2 separate regions of the Homo sapiens genome follow, and region 1 is linked to region 2. The links come from fine-mapping of genetic effects on gene expression. Tissue or cell type: whole blood. Region 2 holds a variant in brackets; the other region holds the start of a gene. All regions are shown on one strand. Distances are from middle to middle.

What was found. PIP is the estimated chance that this variant, and not a neighbour inherited with it, causes the effect.
Region 1: STEAP4 starts here. The variant in region 2 is fine-mapped to the expression of STEAP4 in whole blood (TOPMed, PIP 0.95).

What each region holds. Positions count from the first base shown.
Region 1 is chr7:88,302,174-88,313,090 of GRCh38, reverse strand. STEAP4 (STEAP4 metalloreductase) reads left to right here and starts at 6,197. Exons shown (of 5, transcript NM_024636.4): 1 at 6,197-6,299. All of the region lies in intron 1 of LOC124901692 (a long non-coding RNA gene), which reads right to left.
Region 2 is chr7:88,267,730-88,278,646 of GRCh38, reverse strand. STEAP4 (STEAP4 metalloreductase) reads left to right here. Exons shown (of 5, transcript NM_024636.4): 5 at 1-7,755. Among named protein-coding and RNA genes, the nearest start is that of STEAP4, 34 kb to the left of the region's middle. The variant A/C (reference allele first, on the strand shown) is at 5,482.

The DNA of each region.
Region 1 (10,917 bases), 34 kb before region 2:
AACGTGGTTGCCTCCAGACAAGGGAGCTCAATGTCTGCAGAAAACAGCTTTTCAACATACCCCATTTATATCTTGAATTTTGCATTAATTGTTTAAATATTTTAGTTAATTATTTAAACTAAAGTGTTATATAATGTAAAACAATCTACAGTAACTAAATAAATTGTTTAGCAAACACTCTGTGAACATAAATCATCTGTATTTGGTACTACAGAATCATCTATAGTTAATACTACCAGTATAAAAATAATATATATAATTATCTTTAAAGAAACCCCAAAAAAGAAAATAACTTTTAGCAAGTAATTGATCTTTACAGTTAGAAAATGGAGAAAAAAAAATAGCCTCATATTTTCAGTATTCTTCTCTTTTGCTTTTCCTCCTGTGATTGGTTTTATACTATTTTCCCTGCTAACTCTATTTGAAAGTGAACAGGACCTCATTCACTCTAATATTTTTAAATTTATTTTTGTCTCCTCTTTAGCATGTGAAAAATCTAACTAACCTTCCTTTACTGGCACTAGGCACAAATTGCCTGGACTGGAATTGCTGTTGCCAATAATACTTCCAGTACTAACAGTAACTACCAATCAACTATTGATTCATAGCTCTGCTAGCAGCTTCATATATCATGGCGTGTACCAGCAGGCTGGGGTGAAAGCAGATGACACATCTTCAGTTTTTGAATTACAGAAAGAACATCTCTATTAATGCCAGCTGCATTTATCAAAAAATTAACTCAAATATTTCTCCATCTCTTCAAATTATTTTGCACATCTTGTTCTTTGGTAACATCGTATTTAAGTGACCTCTTCTGAGGTCAGCAGATGTGGTCTTGGGCCGCCTCCAGATTCCTATTGGTGATAGTCAGTCCATAGCCCTGCCAGTGCCTTAGAAGCTTCCAAAATTAACACAGACCTTGTGACCCAGGGAATCAGAGACCCAGATAAAGAGGAAAGGGTTTCCTTGCCTATTTTCAATTCCCAGAAGTAGCTGCAACTGTCTGTCACTTCTAGGCTTTGTCAGTGATGTTTTAAAATATTATTATTCACTTATCCCACATACTCAACTCTTCTCTTCAACCTCCTCTTGAACCTAAAGTCAAGTTCTTTAGGTCTTATTTTTAAGTTCTTTATTGTCATTCCTGACATTATCCCTAGTCCAGACTCCAATACTGTCAGTGTCTGACGTATTTTCCCATCAGTACTTTTTTTGGGTGCAGGTGGGCAGTAAAATGTTGTTTGGTTTTGCTTCCTGGTCTGTGTTGGCAGGAGTCCTAGAAATTGGTTAAAACCAGGTCAATGGCCTGGCTTCTTCACTATACCCTTTGCAGTTTCAGGAAAAAGGAGGAGAAGGATTCTATCTGTCCACCCCCACTAAAATAGGAAAGAAGTAGAAAAAAAGTTTTCTGAGACAGGAAAATGATTTCTGAATATACCAGGAAGTAGCTGAAAAACTTCAGTCACAGAAATTGATTATTTATCCAAGTCCCAAAGCTACTACAAGAAAACTCAGAAAGGCCTTTGTTTTGCTTTTTTTAACAACACATGCCTTCCTCATTCTGACCACATGTTGTGATGAAGCCACCTCAGTAGGCATTACAGTCACAGAAGTCTGACTGAGCAGGTGCCTTTCTCATCCTACCCAATCCCATTTTATACAAATAACAGACATTCAATTACTGACTCATGTCACTAAAAAGCCCAGAGTATACAGCTTTCTTCAGATATGGCACTCTAACAATTGCAGAAATCTGTCTCTTCTCATCTCTTTGCTCTCTTTTCCCCTGAAGTGGCCTCTTTCTCAGGCTGACTTTCTCCTCACAGTGACCCAGGCTTGCTTTTTAGCAGTCCGACAACCCTCTGTAAAGAGTGTGCTGCTTCCCAGGTTGTTCCAGGAAAGATTCCTATTGGCCCAACTCAGGTCACATGCCATCATTGGACCAATCACTGTGGACAAGGCTTTGTGCTTTGAATGGCCAGGTCTAAGTCAGGTGCCTGATCCTGGAACCCCAGTGCCATTGGTTCAACTTGAACCACGTGGATCAAGATTGTGCAAGGGCGTTTATCAAACGAAAATGAAGATATAATTAGCAAAGAGAAATGGATGCTGCAGGACCAGGACTAGAGCAGGCAAGGAAGGCACCAAAGGAAAAACATTTAAGAAGTCATTTATTTTCAGGTTCGTGCAGACTGGGTTTTGAGTGAGCACCTCCACAGATTTGGTGTCCTAGCCTCCTCATTCACCTCACTTAGTCCTGGTCCTGGATGCTAGGTAAGCAAAAGACAAAATATTCCTTACACCAATATTCAAATATATCTCCCAGAGCGCCTGAAATCCCTGCCATAGAGATTCATTTCTGGGGGTTAGACAGAGACATCTCTAGGAGTCCTTCAAAAAAAATTTTTTTTTCAAAAACAGCTAGAGGGCAAATCTTTAAGTCAATAAAAGATTCGCATACACATGCTAATTATAGACTATCAAGTCAGTCACCTCCTGGTCCAGCACGTGTTGAAAGCTCCACCCCACCCCAATAAGAAGGTGTGGAACACTGTAAGGAGAGGACTTGCGGAAGAGGGATAAATGCCCAAGACACAAGATAGTGCAGAGGGGAGCCCCAGAAAAGGAGAAAAATGGCATTGAAAGGGAGATACAAAATGTTAAGGGTAACTTTTTTTCAATCACTTAATAACATTTAATGAACACTGGCTCTAGGCCTACTTCATCAGTTTGCCTAAATTCTACCATTTGGGGCCTTTGACATAGTAGGATGAGGAGAGAGGAAGTAGCAGGAAAGACTCAGGGGCACAGTAAATGTGGAAATCCCTAAATAAGAACAATTTGGTGGTGCACAACATCTGGGAAGGTTTATCTGGAGCTCTGAGTATAAAACTACAGGAAGAAAGATGAATCCTGCCCACAGGAAGTCCTTGGGTACTCAGGTTGCTGGCATCTTTGGGAAGCTTAATTTTCCCCTATGGCAAGGGTTTACGGAAAGACTAGGAGAGTTATGAACTGTGTGTCCCTCCTAGGCCCAAGGGGAAAATCAATCTTTAAACCACAAGATAAATACGTCAAATGCCTCTTAAGTTTTGCACTAATAAAGGCATTTTTTTTCCATCCTTCATATCCCAGTAATTTAATCTTCCTTTTCTAGGACTCCAGTTGCCTTTGGCAAAGAAAAGAACTTGCATAACTGAAATATATCTGCCTCTCATAAAAATCACATTTCAAAATTTTTTATCTACCTAATAATAATAAGTTTATAAAGCAATGATTCTGTTATTACTCAGAGGATGCATTCGAGAATATGGTTGTCCATTATGTCAACTCATAATGGATCCAAACACCACCTAGAAACCAGAGTGACCTGGTCCATAGACCCCAGCTTCTGCTTCTAAATGGCATGCATCGATATAGCTACTCTCTTAACCAGATGTCAGTAAACCTTGGAATTTTATAACTCACTCGTCTGTTTATCCAGCAGCCTTCTGCATATAAAATAGCTTCCACAGGATATGTCTACATGGAGAGAATGTGATGGCCATAATGTCTGGTGCCCTTAGCAACTGTATTTTTACAATAACTATTTGCTTTATATTCCATTAACAACTAACAAGTCACCATTTTGGTTGTTTCAGGCTCAGTGTGCTTATCAAGTTTCTGTGCCCATCAAGGCTTAAAACCAAATGGTAGACAAAGGGCAAGTCTCCAAAACTGTGTTGACCATCTATGAAGACTCTTAGGGACACGCAGCGGACCTTCTTCCATGGGTGCACACCCCTCTCTTGCCTATTAGTCTGCAAACTGGGAAAATCAGATGCTATAAAATCAATGAATATTTTAAGTTCTTCCCTGGCCAAAGAATACTATCGGATGAATTTTTTGCAAAATATAATAATTGGCAGTAGATTTATTAATTAATGAGTGCAATAAATATTCAGTACCAATTACACTCACGCACCACCTAACAATGTTTCGGTCAATGATGCACTGCATATATAATAACGGTCTCATAAAATTATAATGGAGCTGAAAAATTCCTCTTGCCTAGGGACACTGTAGCTGTCATAACATCACAGAGCAATACATTACTCACATTTGTGGTGATGCTGGTGTAAAGAAACCTACTATGCTGCCAGTCATATAGAAGTATAGCATGTACAATTATGTACAGTATATAATACTTGATAATGATAATAAATAGCTATGTTACTGGCTTATGTATTTATTATATGTACCTTTTAAATTATTTTTGAGTGTACTCCTTCTACTTGTATTTTTTAAAAAGTTAACTGTAAAACAGCCTCAGGAAGGTCTTTCAGCAGATATTCCAGAAAAAGGCATTGCTACCACAGAAGACAGCTCCATGCATGTTACTGCCCCTGAGGACCTTTCAGTAACAAAAGACATACAGGTGGAAGACAGTGATATCACATATCTTGATTCTGTGTAGGTCTATGCTAATATGTGTGTTTGTGTCTTCATTTTTAGCAAAAAAATTAAAACTTTTAAAAACGGGACAAAAGCTTATCGAATAAGGATATAAAGACAAAAACTATTTGTACACACTGTACAATATGTGTTTTAAGCTGCGTTATTACAAAACTCAAAAAGTTTTTTAAAACTTAGAAGTTTAAAAAGTAAAAATGTTACAGAAAGCTAAGGGTAATTTACTATTGAAGGAAGAAAAATATTTCTTATAATAGCATAGCCTAAATGTAGTGTTTATAAAGTCTACAGTAGTGTATAGTAATATCCTAGGCCTTCACACTCTCTCACTTACTCACCCAGAGCAACTTCCAGTCCTGTAAGCTCCATTCATGGTAAGTGTTCCATACAGGTATACCATTTTTTATCTTTTATACCACATTTTTACTATACCTTTTCTATGCTTAGATACACAAATACTTACCATTGTGTTACAACTGACTACAGTATTCAGAAAAGTAGCATACTGAACAGGTTTGTAGACTAGGAGCAATCGGCTATATACCATCTAGCCTAGGCCTGTAGTAGGTGATACCATCTAGGTTTGTGTAAGTGCACTCTATGATGTTCACACAATGACGAAATTGCTTGATGAGACATTCCTCAGAATATATTTAATAAATTGCTTAATGAGGCATTCCTCAGAATAAATCCCCATTGTTAAGTAATGCATTTTGCTAGGTGTTATGGAAAATTCCAGACTGAAAAAACTAGGGTGTCATCCCTCGAAGACTGCAGTCCAGGACAAGACACACACACATGATAATAACTCTTTTGAAAGGCAAATTGTCTTAATTGCTGTGCTAAAAGTATAAACTACTGTATAGAGAAAGAAAATATTAATTGCAACTAATGGCTAAGAAAAGACCTCTTGAAAGACATGGGGTCTGACCAACCCCACAAGAAGCTATGAGGAGAGTTGCAATCCAGACAAAGGGAAGGTTGACTCAACAACCCCTTTCCATGGGAGGAACAGGCCTCCCATGTGGCCGGGCCTCTGGAGCTTGGCAAGCGTATGCTGTGGAATTTAAGACCCATGGCTGAGTGGAGATCATTGGGAAGACTCTGGGATTTAGATTACAGAGTTTGGGAGTGTATGGATGCTTTGCCCCATAGTTTATCAGGATTATTTCAATCTTAAACAACCAGGGCTGTGGTTTTTGACCTTCTCTGTAGAAAGACACATTTGCATGTATATCATAAGGTATCCCGATCCCTCTTTCATTTGTTTTATTTCTTTAATCTACCTAAATTAAGACCTGAAAACTCAAGATCTTCCAAGTTATGAGCCCCATAAGAACCCATGGCTTCCAGGCGGAGGGGAAAGATACCACCTTTTCTATAAACTGAGACAAGATGGCAAAAGAATTGCCTAGAAGCCTAGTCCAGGTGCTGTTTTCTCAGCTACTCAAAGAGATCCTTCTTGCTCCTTTAGGAAAGGGGGATTCCTAGACCTCTCCAAACCTCAATCACCCTGGGATGCACAGATGCCAAGGGCTCGGGTGTAACCCTTAAAATCCCCGCTTCCCGGGGGTCAGCGGCACCATCAGCAGCACCGCAGTATAGAAGTTCCGGTCCTTCCAGCTGCTGGGATTCTCAGCTTGAACTCTTCCAGGAAACAAGTTCTTTTCCGCTTCTCTTGCGAAATCCAGCAGACCGTCCCGCCCTTCTCTGGCTTCTTATAGCAGCGAGAGCCACAAGCCACAGCGCTGAGCTGCAGGCGCGGCGAAACTTCCCTCTACCCGCCCGGCCCGCGGCGCGCACCGTTGGCGCTGGACGCTTCCTCCTTGGAAGCGCCTCTCCCTCAGGTGGGTCACTTTTCGCCACAAGGCTCCCGTCCCTTATCTGCTTCAGCTCACCTCCAGTCCCTGCTGCTAGGACCCCACTCCCCAGCCCATCGCACTGAAGAACAGGTGCTTGCAAACTCCCCGCCGCGCCCCGGCATCACTTTAGAGGAAAGTCACCTGAGGCTGCTCCGCGATTCAGCAAGCTTCTAACTTCCTGGAGTTTAAGGCTCATCCCTACCCCAGGGTGCAGACAAGCCCAAAGGGGGAAAATTAAGGGGTTAGATTCTTCTCTGCATCTTACTTCTGGATTGGCGCACTCTTGGGGCGCCCATCAAAAAGTAGGCTGGAAGAATGTGGCTTTAGCAGTCAGTCTCCAAGGTCTCAGATCCGAGGCTGCTTCTTGACCAGGCACTAAAAATTTGTCCTGATACCTGCAACCACTTCCATTTTTTTATCTTGATTTAAATTTCCTCTTGCAATTTAAAGGTTATTTTTCTGGAGGAAGATTGTTCAGAATATAATTTATTGTGAAGAGTAAATAAAGCCTCAGTTCCGTTTGTTTGTCCAGAGACAGAATTTTATTATTCTTTTTCCCACCTCTAGATGGTAATTTAGGAACTTTCTTTAAAAGATTGGTGTACTGAGGCTGGGTACGGTGGCTCAAGCCTGTTATCCCAACACTTTGGGAGGCCAAGGCCGATGGATCACTTGAGGTCAGGAGTTCGAGACCAGCCTGGCCAACATAGTGCAACCCAGTCTCTACTAAAAATACAAAAATTAGCCAGGCGTGGTGGCAGGTGCCTGTAATCCCAGCTACACAGGAGGCTGAGACAGGAAAATCACTTGAACCTGGGAGGTGGAGGTTGCAGTGAGCTGAGAAAGTGAATTGGATAGAGAATGGGGGAGGGGAGGAAGAATACTATTCCTAGTTCTATAATAACTAGAACCTCATTATCTCAGCCTCAGTTTCCACAGATGTAAAATAAAAGGCTGGCTACTGGGCCAGATGATCCAGAAAGTTCAACTCTAACAAGGTGAAAAGCCGTGACTAAAGATGCCTGCAAGTTTGAAATACATAGAAAATCTCCTTAATGCTACAACTATAATTCAGTGGTTACTTTTTTCATAATAATGCATGTTCCATTTTTATAAGGAAACTCTCCAGTTGTCGGGGGAAGAGTCTCTTCCCACAGGAGCATCTTAAAGTTCTGCCACATTTATCATTCAGAGAATACTCTCAGCTTTCAAAACCATTCTTCAGCCTTGCTATGTGAGAATGTCCTATTCCCTACAAATGGCAGTCATATAAATGTCACTCACATGAGAGAACATTTTTTTTTTCTGATACAGTAGGTATAATTTTGTAAAATGGCACATTTATTTGAAGCAGTAACTTTTCTGAGATATGGCCTTTTGCAAGGTCCCAAGTTTTTCAGAATGCTGTGATTTAGCACAATATGAGATTTGACCTGCATGTATTCTACCTGCATGGCAAACACTGCCAACCCAGAAAACAGGATGAGACACTTCCTATTTATCAGGCTCCAAGGCTGTAAAGTAAATGGTACATGTGTACAGAGAAATTGGGTCATAGCAGTTTTTCTATTTGGTAACGTTTACAGTTCCACTGAGGTTCACGTTGTTCACATTGTTGAAGTTCACATTGTTCAGAAACCAGGTGTACAAGGCCTGGCCCCTAGCTGAAGAACAATTTCCAGACTTCTGCCTTACTAAAGCTCGCTAACTGTTGTTTAGAAGGAACTAAACAGACTTTTTAAGATTGTTAATAAATTAAAAACCCCAGGCCTTGCACTATGTGTGAACAATTTTAAGAAAAATAAGGTCATTTGTTATGGAATTTTATATTCAAAGAAACTTGGAGTGGTCACTCTGCATTACTTTGTCTCTTGAAGGACTTCCCCTGAATCACCCTACTATTATTAATACTGTTATTAAAAGGATATAAATTCTCCTTTTAAAGGCTGGGTAGCTGATTCTGTTGTCACTCTCAGGAACACATTCCACTGTTTTAGGATCCTTACCACCTAGTTCTCTTCATAATTAATTTAGACGTGTTTATCAAATGCTACTTAAAAATCATTTTTTTTTTGGAAAATCTTAGGAAATCTGATAAGTTGCTAGCAAACACACACACACACACACACACACACAACAGCAGCAACACAGTAGTCCTTCAAAACCTGAAGATTGGGCACTTTGCTAGGGCACTTTGTAGCTAGTTTTTTCTGGGTTGTCCTCTGAGAAGGTAATTTGCTAGTGCCTGCAGCTACATCTACCAATAATTCTTACTATAACAATGCAGAGTAGGATGGGGATAGTGAAGTTTTCTGGGTGGGATTTTGTTTGTTTGTTTGTTTTTTTGTTGTAAGTTTATGCCAGATAATAATAATGTAAGGTTTACAGAGATAAGATCTCTGAAGTTACCTGTCTCTGTTCTTCACAGATTTTTTTTTATTATTATACTTTAAGTTTTAGGGTACATGTGCACAATGTGCAGGTTAGTTACATATGTATACATGTGCCATGCTGGTGCGCTGCACCCACTAACTCGTCATCTAGCATTAGGTATATCTCCCAATGCTATCCCTCCCCACTCCCCCCATCCCACAACAGTCCCCAGAGTGTGATGTTCCCCTTCCTGAGTCCACGTGTTCTCATTGTTCAGTTCCCACCTATGAGTGAGAATATGCGGTGTTTGGTTTTTTGTTCTTGCGATAGTTTACTGAGAATGATGATTTCCAATTTCATCCATGTCCCTACAAAGGACATGAAAAGAGACTGGTTTACTAATTAGGAAAACTTCCTGAACAGTTCTATATACTGTGTTAACTCCACTCAAGATATTTCTGATGACTTTTAGGTCATTTCCAAAGTGATTTGAATTAGTATTTGTCCTTTTGTTAAGAAGAAATCAGTCCTGGAAGGAATCAAACTAAATAAATAACTAAAGAATAATTAATGCATAAAACAAGGCATGCTAAGAAAACATTCTTGGCCTACATAGATTAACAATTTGTTCTTCCCAAATCATTAAGGAATAGAAAACAATGAATCCTTGTGCTGTTTAAAGATCCTCTTTCAGAAACATATCATTGCAAAAGAACACACTATTCTACTAAAGGAAGTATATACACTCTAATTAACTAGGCAGGACATTGACATCCCAATCTAAATTCTTCTCCACAATGTTCTGTAAGAGTTTATTCAGCCATGTGTGGAGAGGTTTACTGTACTGTACTTTGGCAGTCACATATTTCTGAAAAGCTATTTTGGGAGGACTTTTTTTTTTTTTTTTTGAGACTGAGTCTCGCTCTGTCACCCAGGCTGGAGTGCAGTGGCAGGATCTTGCCTCACTGCAACCTCTGCTCCTTGGGTTCAAGCAGTTCTCCTGCCTCAGCCTCCTGAGTAGCTGGGATTATAAGTGCCCACCACAATGCCCAGCTAATTTTTTTATGTTTAGTAGAGAAGGGGTTTCGCCGTGTTGGCCAGGCTTGTCTGGAACTCCGGTCCTCAGGTGATCCATCCGCCTTGGCCTACCAAAGTGCTAGGACTACAGGTGTGAGCCACCGCGCCCGGTTGGAGTTTTTTTTTTTTTTTTTTTTTTTTTAATGCAGATTATATGATCAATCCTAACATCAGGATAAAGTTCCCTTTTCATCTTAAAAGGAAGGAAAATGTTTGCAAAGAGTAATTTTGAAAAGTTAGGAACTATAATTCTAAATAAAAAGAAGGCTAAAAGAAAATAAAACTATATAGCACAGCTCTTGGAAGATTATTAGTAGAATACAAGCTAGTCAGTTTGGCCTCAGCACCCAATTTTTTTTTTTTTTTTTTTTTTTTGAGACAGTCTCACTCCTTCACTCAGGCTGGAGTACAGTAGCGCGATGTCAGCTCACTGCAACCTCCATCTCCTGGGCTCAAGCAATTCTCCTGCCTCAGCCTCCTGAGTAGCTAGAATTAAAGGCATGCACCACCAAGCCTACCTAATTTTTGCATTTTTAGTAGAGATGGGGTTTCGCCATTTTTGCCAGGCTGGTCTTCAACTCCTGACCTCAAGTGATCTGCCTGTCTTGGCCTCCCGAAGTGCTGGGATTACAGGCGTGAGTGACCGCACCTGGCCAGCACCCAATATTAAGGAAAAAAAAATGCATTAAGAACAGAGCCAGGGCTCAGAGAGCTGATGGCACCAGCACTGTGGAGCGTAGAAATAGGAAGGGATAATTAATGGTCATCGCTGATTGTTCATCTTTCATCTATACCTGCTCTTTTTACAGGGTGTGAAAACAGTTTTGAGCTCAAGTTAAATTGTGGCTGCAAAACTTTTGCACAGACTTTGGAAAACTTACTTGTTCCGCTTCCTGGCAGATTCAAGTCCCTCCTAGCCTGTAGGCGCCCATCCTCTCTACACATTCGTCTGCTCTGGCCATTACACTATGCATTGCAACAATTTGATTATATGCTTCATCTTTCCCAAGACCAAAGCTCCTTGAGGACAGGGTCCATCTCGTTTCTCACTTTATCCCTCTTAGTGTGGCTATTCAATAAATCTCTGTTGAAAGCAAGGCATTGCTAATAACACTGATTTTTATTTTTGGAAGATACTTACCTTATGGACATA
Region 2 (10,917 bases):
TTGTGCAATAAGCAAAGAAGGGTTGATAAAAGTTCTTGATCAAAAAGTTCAAAGAAACCAGAATTTTAGACAGCAAGCTAAATAAATATTGTAAAATTGCACTATATTAGGTTAAGTATTATTTAGGTATTATAATATGCTTTGTAAATTTTATATTCCAAATATTGCTCAATATTTTTCATCTATTAAATTAATTTCTAGTGTAAATAAGTAGCTTCTATATCTGTCTTAGTCTATTATAATTGTAAGGAGTAAAATTAAATGAATAGTCTGCAGGTATAAATTTGAACAATGCATAGATGATCGAAAATTACGGAAAATCATAGGGCAGAGAGGTGTGAAGATTCATCATTATGTGAAATTTGGATCTTTCTCAAATCCTTGCTGAAATTTAGGATGGTTCTCACTGTTTTTCTGTGCTGATAGTACCCTTTCCAAGGTGACCTTCAGGGGGATTAACCTTCCTAGCTCAAGCAATGAGCTAAAAGGAGCCTTATGCATGATCTTCCCACATATCAAAATAACTAAAAGGCACTGAGTTTGGCATTTTTCTGCCTGCTCTGCTAAGACCTTTTTTTTTTTTTACTTTCATTATAACATATTATACATGACATTATACAAAAATGATTAAAATATATTAAAACAACATCAACAATCCAGGATATTTTTCTATAAAACTTTTTAAAAATAATTGTATCTATATATTCAATTTTACATCCTTTTTCAAAGGCTTTGTTTTTCTAAAGGCTTTGTTTTCCTTTTTATTATTTTTTTCTTTTTTATTTTTTTGAGACAGTCTTGCTCTGTCGCTCAGGCTGGAGTGCAGTGGCACGATCTCAGCTCACTGCAACCTCCTCCTCCCAGGTTCAAGTGATTCTTGTTCATCAGCCTCCCGAGTAGCTGGGACTACAGGCATGTGCCACTATGCCCAGCTAATTTTTGTACTTTTAGTAGAGACAGGGTTTCACCACATTGGTCAGGCTGGTCTTGAAATGCTGGCGTCAAGTGATCTGCCTGCCTCCGCCTCACAAAGCACTGGGATTACAGGCATGAATCTGGCCTTACGTAATATATTTTCTTAATGGCTGCATAATATCACATCAAATAGGCATTTTTCAAACCTCTTTCCTTATTAAACATGTAGACTATATCCATTTTTTACTAAAATAAATAACATTTCAGATAATATCTTTGCACTGATAATGTTGCCAAGCCATTTCTAAAGTGACCTTATCAATTTAATTACCATTGGATGAGGGTGTTGCTTTCATCGCACCATTGTAGATTGTCTTTTTTATTTCAATTTGCGTTTATTTATAACTGGTTGCAAAGGTACACAGAACACACGCTCCTTCAACTTATCTTTGATAAACCCAAGCAAGGATACAAAAAGTTGGACGACATTGAGTAGAGTCATGGTATACGGTGCTGACCCTACAGTATCAGTGGAAAAGATAAGGAAAATGTCACTACTCACCTATGTTATGCAAAACAGTTAGGTGTGCTGGGGCTGGATACTGCTCTTTTACTTGAGCATTGGTTGATTAAAGTTTAGGTACCATCCAGGCTGGTCTAGAGAAGTCTTTGGAGTTAACCATGCTCTTTTTGTTAAAGAAGAGAGTAATGTGTTTATCCTGGCTCATAGTCCGTCACCGAAAATAGAAAATGCCATCCATAGGTAAAATGCTGACCTATAGAAAAAAATGAACTCTACTTTTATAGCCTAGTAAAAATGCTCTACCTGAGTAGTTAAAAGCAATTCATGAAGCCTGAAGCTAAAGAGCACTCTGATGGTTTTGGCATAATAGCTGCATTTCCAGACCTGACCTTTGGCCCCAACCACAAGTGCTCCAAGCCCCACCAGCTGACCAAAGAAAGCCCAAGTTCTCCTTCTGTCCTTCCCACAACCTCCCTGCTCCCAAAACTATGAAATTAATTTGACCATATTAACACAGCTGACTCCTCCAGTTTACTTAAGGTAGAAAGAATGAGTTTACAACAGATGAAAATAAGTGCTTTGGGCGAACTGTATTCCTTTTAACAGATCCAAACTATTTTACATTTAAAAAAAAAGTTAAACTAAACTTCTTTACTGCTGATATGTTTCCTGTATTCTAGAAAAATTTTTACACTTTCACATTATTTTTGTACACTTTCCCCATGTTAAGGGATGATGGCTTTTATAAATGTGTATTCATTAAATGTTACTTTAAAAATATTTCCTAGTTTTGTTTAATTCTGGTTTTAACTCATCAGCATTCCAAATAAAGTTACTAAAAGGTTTTGAATCACAGTAGTTCCAGCATCTGGGACTAAAAATACTTCCCTTCAGGGATAAGCAAAAGAGAAGGCAGTGCATGGGTTTGAAAGTGCATTAACAGATCTGCAGCTTCTTGCAATGTAAGCTTGAGCTCAGCGGGGTGGCACAGTCCAGTATGCTGTGTGTGCTTCAGTATTACCCTCAGAGAGGGGAGAGCATCAGATGGCTAAATGGGGAGGACTGCACTATCCCACGCTGGATTTTTGTGAGAATTTGGAGGTAAAAAAGGCTTTCCTTCTCCATGCAGACGCCACAGGGATAAGGCTAATGGCTTGACAAGCAGACTTCAGGTTGGATTCAGACTGCGTGACTGGGCATTAAATGCCTTGCACAACTGGACTGCTGCAGCTCTGATGGGTGTTATCCTGCTTTCAAAAATAGTATTAAAACTTACAAATAAAGAGAGGACTGACAACCTGGAGGAAGCTGGAAGCAAATGGAAAGCCCCTACTGAAAAAGCCATTTCAATTAGAAATTCATTCAGGAGCTCTTCATTCATCTATTGTTCAGGGATCACAAAAGAGCCATGATAATGATAAATGCATATTATGCATTTCACCTCTGAGAGCATAAAAGCTTCTGGAACTCTGTTCCAAAATTAAGGTGTAATGGCAGTCATGGTACTGCACACAGTAGTTGCAATTTTCATTCTCCATCATCACAACCATCATCTTCACTACCACTTCTCCAACACACACACACACACACACACACACACACACACACCCCATGAGAGCCCACAGATAGCCTTACAGGGTCCTACTTCAATTTTCTATAATGAATTAGGTTTACATTCTAGAAAAATCCTTCACTCTTCTAAAGGTTTGTTCAGTAGAATTTGGGAAAAGAGTATAAGTTACTCTTCAATGTATCAGAAGCATTTGGACCAGGTGACTCCATCTTCAATAGAGGCTGAGTAAAATAAGCCTGAGACTGGCCGGGCGCAGTGACTCACACCTGTAATCCCAGCACTTTGGGAGGCCAAGTCAGGTGGATCACCTGAGGTCAGGAGTTTGAGACCAGCCTGGCCAACATGGTGAAACCCCATCTCTACTAAAAATATAAAAAATTAGCCAGCATGGTGGCGCATGCCTGTAATCCCAGCTACTCTGGAGGCTGAGGCAGGAGAAGTGCTTGGACCCAGGAAGCAGAGGTTACAATGAGCCAAGATCGCGCCATTGCACTCCAGCCTGGGTGACAAGAGTGAAACTCCGTCTCAAAATAAATAAATAAATAAATAAGACTGAGACCTACTGGGCTGCATTCCCAGGACAGCAGGTGTTCTTAGTCACAGGATGAGATAGGAGTAAGCACAAGGTACAGGTCACAAAGACCTTGCTGATAAAACAGGATGCAATAAAGAAGCCGTCCAAAACCTACCAAAACCAAGATGGCAATGAAAGTGATCTTTGGCTGTCTCAGCTGTTCATTATATGCTAATTATAATATATTAGCAGCCTAAAATACACTCCCACTAGCACCATGACAGTTTACAAATTCCATGGCCACATCCAGAAGTTACCCTATATGTTCTAAAAGCAGGAGGAGCCCTCAGTTCTGGGAATCATCTGCCCCTTTCCTGAACATCTCATGAATAATCCATCCCTTGTTTAGCATATAATCAAGAAATAACTATAACTATACTCAGCCAGGCAGCCCATGCCACTGCTCTGCCTATGAAATAGCCCTTTTATTCCTTTACAGTCTTAATAAACTTGCTTTCATTTTATGGATTCACCTCAAATTCTTTCTTGTGCAAGATCCAAGAACTCTCTCTTGGGGTCTGTATTGGACCCCCTTTCTGGTAACATATGCATTACCTCTCCTCAAGCTCGAGGCAAAGTCCTAAAGTTTCGGATAAGACCCATATGAGGGAGGTGAAGGATGAAGGGATTGAGGGCAAAGGGACTGAGAAAAGGGGAGTGTGGAAGAGCAAGACAGTGCTCTTGCCATTACCCAGCAAAAGCCAAAAGGATCCAGTACTACTTGCTTTCTGCTGTAAGGGAATTTTGGAAGGCTTTTAATGATACTTACAGCAGAGTGCCATGCGTAAAGCCTATGCTAACAATTTCACATGCATTATCTTATTTAATCCTCATAACAGTTCTCTAAGGTTCTCTTCTTATCCTTATTTATCAGAAGAGGAAACTGAGCTTTGAAATCTCAGTACTTTGACTAAGTTCACACAACTAATGAGAGGCAGAGCTGGGATCTAGGCAGTCTGACTCCAGGCCCATCTCCTTTTAACACAACGATATAATAGGGGACACCCATGCTGTCCTCTTAAATGTCCCTTTGAATCCACAAAATAGACTAAGTGAACGAAACCACTGCAACTCTTCTTAAAAACATTTTTAAAGACAAGAAGCTTATTCGCATTTTAAATATTCCTGATTGCCCAGTCCTCAATACTCCAGGTTTATCTATGCTGATTTCAATTCGTCCTCTAAGGTTGTAGAAACACAGGATCTGTGGTTCCCGCATTAAGTTCAATTCCATTGCAATTGCCATTTTAATCTTCCCACTCTAGTCTGGCCACAAGGTTTCCTAAACTCTAAAGGGAGCTTTGTTCTGGTGGAGGGAGGTAAAATCCCCAGACCTGAGGACTCGAAGGGGCAGTCAAGGAGAGGATAGCTCTTCTCCAGAGCTTAAAGGCAAATATTTTCTTTTTCCCTGGTTTCTCACCTTATTGCTTTGTGTACTGAGTGAACTTATTTGTTTTTGAGATCCAGTAACCCATGCAAGAAATTTCATAACACTTCTCATTTAGTACTTTAATACTAGTTGAAGAATCTAGGGTTACACACACACACACACACACACACCAGGCTTAGTTCCATTACCTATAGCTGTAAAAATGAGATTTTTTTCTCAGTTTTGTGAAAATGAAAGGCTGCTGGACTGGAACTCACAGTATTGTATATCAAAAAGTATCAGATTGTGATAAAATAGAAACCCAGAATTAAACTTGGCCTTATGATTTTTAGAAAGTCAACAGATTTTGAAGGAGCCCACCCAGTGTATTCATTTCATTTTTACTAATCCTTTCTTTCATGCTAAGATAGAGATGAAAAAGAATGACAGACTTCCTGTTCTCATTTCATTACAGCAAAATAAATAAGTTTTAGTGTTCCATAGCTCTGTAGGATGACTATAGTTAA[A/C]AATAACATATAATTTCAAATAGCCAGGAGGACATTGACTGTTCCCAACACAAAGAAATGATAAATGTTTGCAATGATGGATATGCTAATTACACTGATCTGATCACTATACATTGTACATACATAAACATGACTATGTACCTCATGGATATGTACAACTGTTATTTGTCAGTTTTAGAAAATAAAAAAGCAGAAGAGATCTGCTACCAAATGCAGGAATTTTCTATAGAGTCTGTTATAGCTAGCCTTCTACAGGCTTAACTCTTCTCATGATGGAGTATTGACCATCACCAACAGGAAATCTTTTGTTTTAGGCACTCCAGGAAATTATCAGGGAGTTCTCTCTGTAGATAACCAAAGTTTCCCTAGTTGTACTTCTACCCATTTTTCTTAGTGTGATCATTTAAAGCAGTGCCTCACCAACTATCAGAGATGGGGGCCAGTAATTTTTGTTTCATTTTTTTCCAGTTCATTACAAATCAATGCATATGTCTGTAAAACACAAAATCACACCCTTAAATGTGATGGCAACATCAAATTGCCATAAAAGTTTCTAAACTTTTCACCCCAATTTCTGAATTTATCACAGACTGGTAAAAAACAGCTCACAAGCCAGCACCACGGGCAGACCACACTTTGCACAGTGCTCAAACGTAGGCCTAACAACCTGGCTTGGCTTGGCACTTCTAAAAACCGATCCTGAGGCAAGGCTTCTTGTAAAAGAGTTTATACTGGAAGTTAAAAATCATCAAATTATTAGATACTGGGAATGGAGTAGTAAAGTAGACAGAGCAGGGAAGGAATAAAGTATGAATTTTCAAGCTGGTTACCCATCTGGGCAACTGGAGCTCAGTTTTGCTGGGAAAGTCTGGAAGACAGTGTCAGATATAACTAAGAGTTATTCCCATCAAGGGGAAAGGAAACTGTGCTTTTCATCCACCAAATCCTTGCTTAACATTGGAATACAGATGCTTCCAAGACATTAACTTTGTGGCACTTCTGGCTTTTCCTACACACTTATTGTGTATGCCACCATGTCTAGGGGGAAAAAGGCCCACAGGCAAAGAGGTACCAGCATTCATACCACCAGCTTTCAGCTTGTAGAGGTGGCCGCCAAGAGGAACTCGTAGTTGGCAGTGCCAACTACAACTACTACACCAACCAGCTGGAAACTATACAAAGAGTATGAACAAAGTTCACAGGAGAAACAAGGCTCTGCAACATATGAAAATATATTCTACTTCATTCATAATGAGACGCATGAAAATTGTAACTGTATCAATACCATTTCTCACCTAGTAGATGGGCAAAAATCCAAATGTTTGAGCACACATTCTGTGGGTGAGGCTGTGGAAACGTAGGTTCACATACATTGCTCTTGGATATGCAGATTAGGACCGCTCCTGTGGAGAGCAGTTAGGGAATATCTTTCAAAATTAAAAAATGCAGAGTTAAGTTTTGATCCAGGAGTCTCACTCCTGAGAATTTATGCTATAGATATGCCTACAAGCATTTGAGATGAAAAAGAAGCATTGCTATTTGTTTTTCTTGTTTTTCATGAATAACATTGTAAAAGTAGAATATGGGCAGTGATTCAAGCATTCATCTTTGGGACTGGTTAAGGAAACTATGATGCTTTCACAGAATGAAATTCTATGCAGCTGTTTAAAACAAACCAAGACACCTTCTTTCACATATATGGAAAGATGTCCAAAATATACTGTTCAGTTTTTAAAAAGGTACAAAATAACATATATAGTATGATTCCTTTTGCATATGTGTATTTGCTTTTAATTGCCTAAAGAAACTCTCAGAAGGATTCAAAAGATCCATACCAAACAAGATGGGAGAACAGAGGAGTAGTGACAGGAGTAGAAGCACTGTAGACCTTTTCATATCATTTTGGTTTTTAAATTACATGAGTAGGTTACCTAATTATTAAAATAAATTTAATTTAAAAGGTAATGGGGGATAGGAAGAAATTTGTTAAAAGATACAAAATTACAGCTAGATAGGAAGATTAAGTTGTAGTGTTCTATAGCTCTGTAGGATGACTACAGTTAACAATAATATATATTCTAAATAGCTAGAAGGAGGATATTGAATGTTCTCAACAGAAAGAAATGATAAATGCTTAAGATGATGGATATACTAATTACCCTAATCTGATCACTGTATATTTTGTGTATTGCAATGTCACTATGTACCCCATAAATATGTATAATTATCGTGTGTCAATTAAAAATTTTTAATTAAAAAATTATAAACAAAAAATTTTTTAAAGTAATTGATTGCATATCCCTGCTAAATCTTATCTTACGCTAAACACCAGCACATTCACTGTTTTCTCTTGTATAAAAATTTCTAAATCTTTCATCTTTCTGGTGCCTCTTGTTCAGATCTACAAACATTTCAATGTTCCTTTTAAAACACAGTTCCCTAAACCAAAAACATGATATTTTTCCCTTCTTTCACATTCTGTAATTAAAATAGTATTTAAATTCCTAGTAGACATTTTAGGAATATTCAACAACAAAAAGTTGTCCATTATTTCATCTGTATTGGCATTTTTCCCCATATGAAAAAGACTTAAAATACTTTAATATAAAATAAATTTTCAATAAAAATAGTTTTTATAAAACTGGCTAAAAATAGCAAGTAGGCATCAAAAATATAACTCCAGTTGAGGTGCAGGTTTAGAGTATAACGTGATTGTTGCTTCTGTTATTCTAACTTGTGAGTCTCTATTAATTTAGTGTACATGTTCACTGTAAATTTTTATAGTCGCAAAATTTCAGGATCACATCAAATAATATGCCTAATTTCTTTTCACATAAAGCATTAATTCCAGTCTCTCCATAGTCTGCCCCTCTAGCCCCATCTCTGCCCCCTTCCACCACCAAACCATCCACCCTACACTGATTACCATTAATATTTTTAAACCTAAGTACAAAGCAAAAATATCTTGCACTATCTGCACTGTCTTTGCAATAATGCTATAAATCTAAAATTATTTTAAAATACTATGACCCTAACATTGTTCTAAAATAAAAGGTTTACTTAAAAAAAAGCACTCACCATATTCTTATTAAAGTTTATCTCATATAAATTAACCTATCCTTCAGCATAGAAAATTGTTTTAAATATTAATTCCCTTTTCCAAAAGATATGCTCTACACATATTTCCTAAACATGGCCTCCATGTCTTTATTTTAGTTTTTGATAGGAAATACAGAAACGTTATCCATAACCTCCAACTCCAACTATAGTGTTTTTTAGACTACATGAAGCCTAGAGATTATCTAATAGTATACATTCATTTCACAGATGTGGAAACTGAACCCAAGAGGGTGAAGTAATTTCTGCAAGGTCACATAGCTACATTGCAACAAAGCAGAATTGGACCACAGATGACTGATTTTCAGGCTAGGGTTTTTTCCGATCCTTTTGAAATCAGGTGATTAAGTTGAAAACAAGCTGGTTGTAGATCCAAAAAAAAATGGGGGTCAAAAGGGCTGATCCGAAACAGGTATATCCAGTGACAATTTTGGACTTTTCAGTCTGTGATGAGTACTTTGCCTTTAAAAAACATGACAGAGACTAAAGAAACAGAATTATCTAGTGGTATATTTAGGCTGACTGTGATTATTGGAATTCTAAAGAATGATACACAACATTTTCCCCTTCTTTAACGTTCTCTCATTAAAATAATATTTAAAGTCTTAGTAAACATTTTAGGAATATTCAACAACAAAAAGTTGTCCATTATTTCATCTCTGTTGGAATTCTTCCCCATATGAAGAAGACTGTTAAAACTGCTTTAATATAAAATAATTTTACAATAAAAATAGTTTTTATAAAACTGGCTAAAAATACCAAGTAGACATCAGTGGCAGTCATGGAAGATGACCTACTCAGATGTTCCTTCAAGAGAACCTGCTGCAAGGAAACATAACAAATAAACAACTTTCAACTGGCCCACATTATTGATAAGCACCACGTTATTCACATGATCCACATTGCCCTTGGGCTGCTCCCAGGCAATGACCATGCATAACAGAGATACTAGAACAAAGCCATCATTGCCTCAAAAGAGCTTCCTCTAATGGATCATTGCCTCATATGAGCTTCCTCTAATGGATCATTGCCTCATATGAGCTTCCTCTAATGGGCAGCATTTGCTTGGATGTTCCCACTGGGCCAGCCAAGACCTTTTCACATCTGCACTATGATCTGGATCTCCTCCTATCCAATGTTTCCCTTGCCTTCATCTTTTGCACGTGTAAGACCAGCATTGCAATATGAAGGCTCCCTCCTCCTTTATCCTTTAAGTCATTTCTTCCAATAAATCTCCCATCCTATCTTGGTACCTGCTTCTTGGAGAACCTAACTGACAAAGCATCACAGGCAGAAAAGCAGCAAAATAAATAACTTTTGTTAATAACATTAGATAATAATTATGACATTTATTAACCCTTTCACTCAAATATAATCCTCAACAGATAGTTTCGCCAATTGTTATGTCCTAAGATGTTAAGCATAAATAAGTGACAAATGTACATCACAGAGTGTGTTAGGGAAGCATATCTCTTTTTCCAAGTTCCAATCCCCTACCTATGAAAGAGAAGAAAATATGTGATTCTTAAGGTCTAAAAATACATACGAAAGAAAAAAATGCATTTCTGTTTCACTGAACATTATGAAGCTGCTAGTCTCAGAGAAGGGCTAAACATGGTAAAGAGATAGTGAAGAAAAGATGCTTGGGGAGCAAAAGTTGAAAATGGCTGAATCTGAGAAAAAGGTATGGATTTAATCCCTCCACCACCCTGAATCTGAGGCAGAGGAACGAGGATTGCAGAATGAAGTATCCCAAATGCTGAGAGATGACTCATTACTTTAGTAAGACACAAAGCTTTTAGTAAGAATCTTCAGTCAATACAGTAAAGTTCTCTGAGAAACACTTCAAAGGCCATGCAAAGCAAAGTGACTACATCGACCCAACTCTTAACAGCAGTATCATGTGGCCAGAAGAGCCAGAATAAAGATGTCAACCACCACAGGCACAGACCAGAACCCTCCCCCACCTTCTAGCCCTAATCAATTTCTGCACCCTGATTTGAGAGAAGGATGAGAGAAAAAAAGACACAAAAATTAACTTAAATTGAATGTGATATTGGCTAGGTGCACAGTAGCTCCACAAAAAGTTATTCTGACTTACAAAATTAAAAAATTGTAGCATTCCTTATACCTAGGAGTTGTGCCACAAGTTTATAGAAGAAAAGAAAATAAGAATTAACAAATGCCAAGAAAGAATTAGGAGGGTCAAAGAGCAAACAATAAGAAATAAGAACTATACTTAAGGAAACACACAAATAGATGCCACAAGTGCAGAGTAAGGAAAATGGAGAATGGAAGATGGAGAGTAGTAAGTAACGA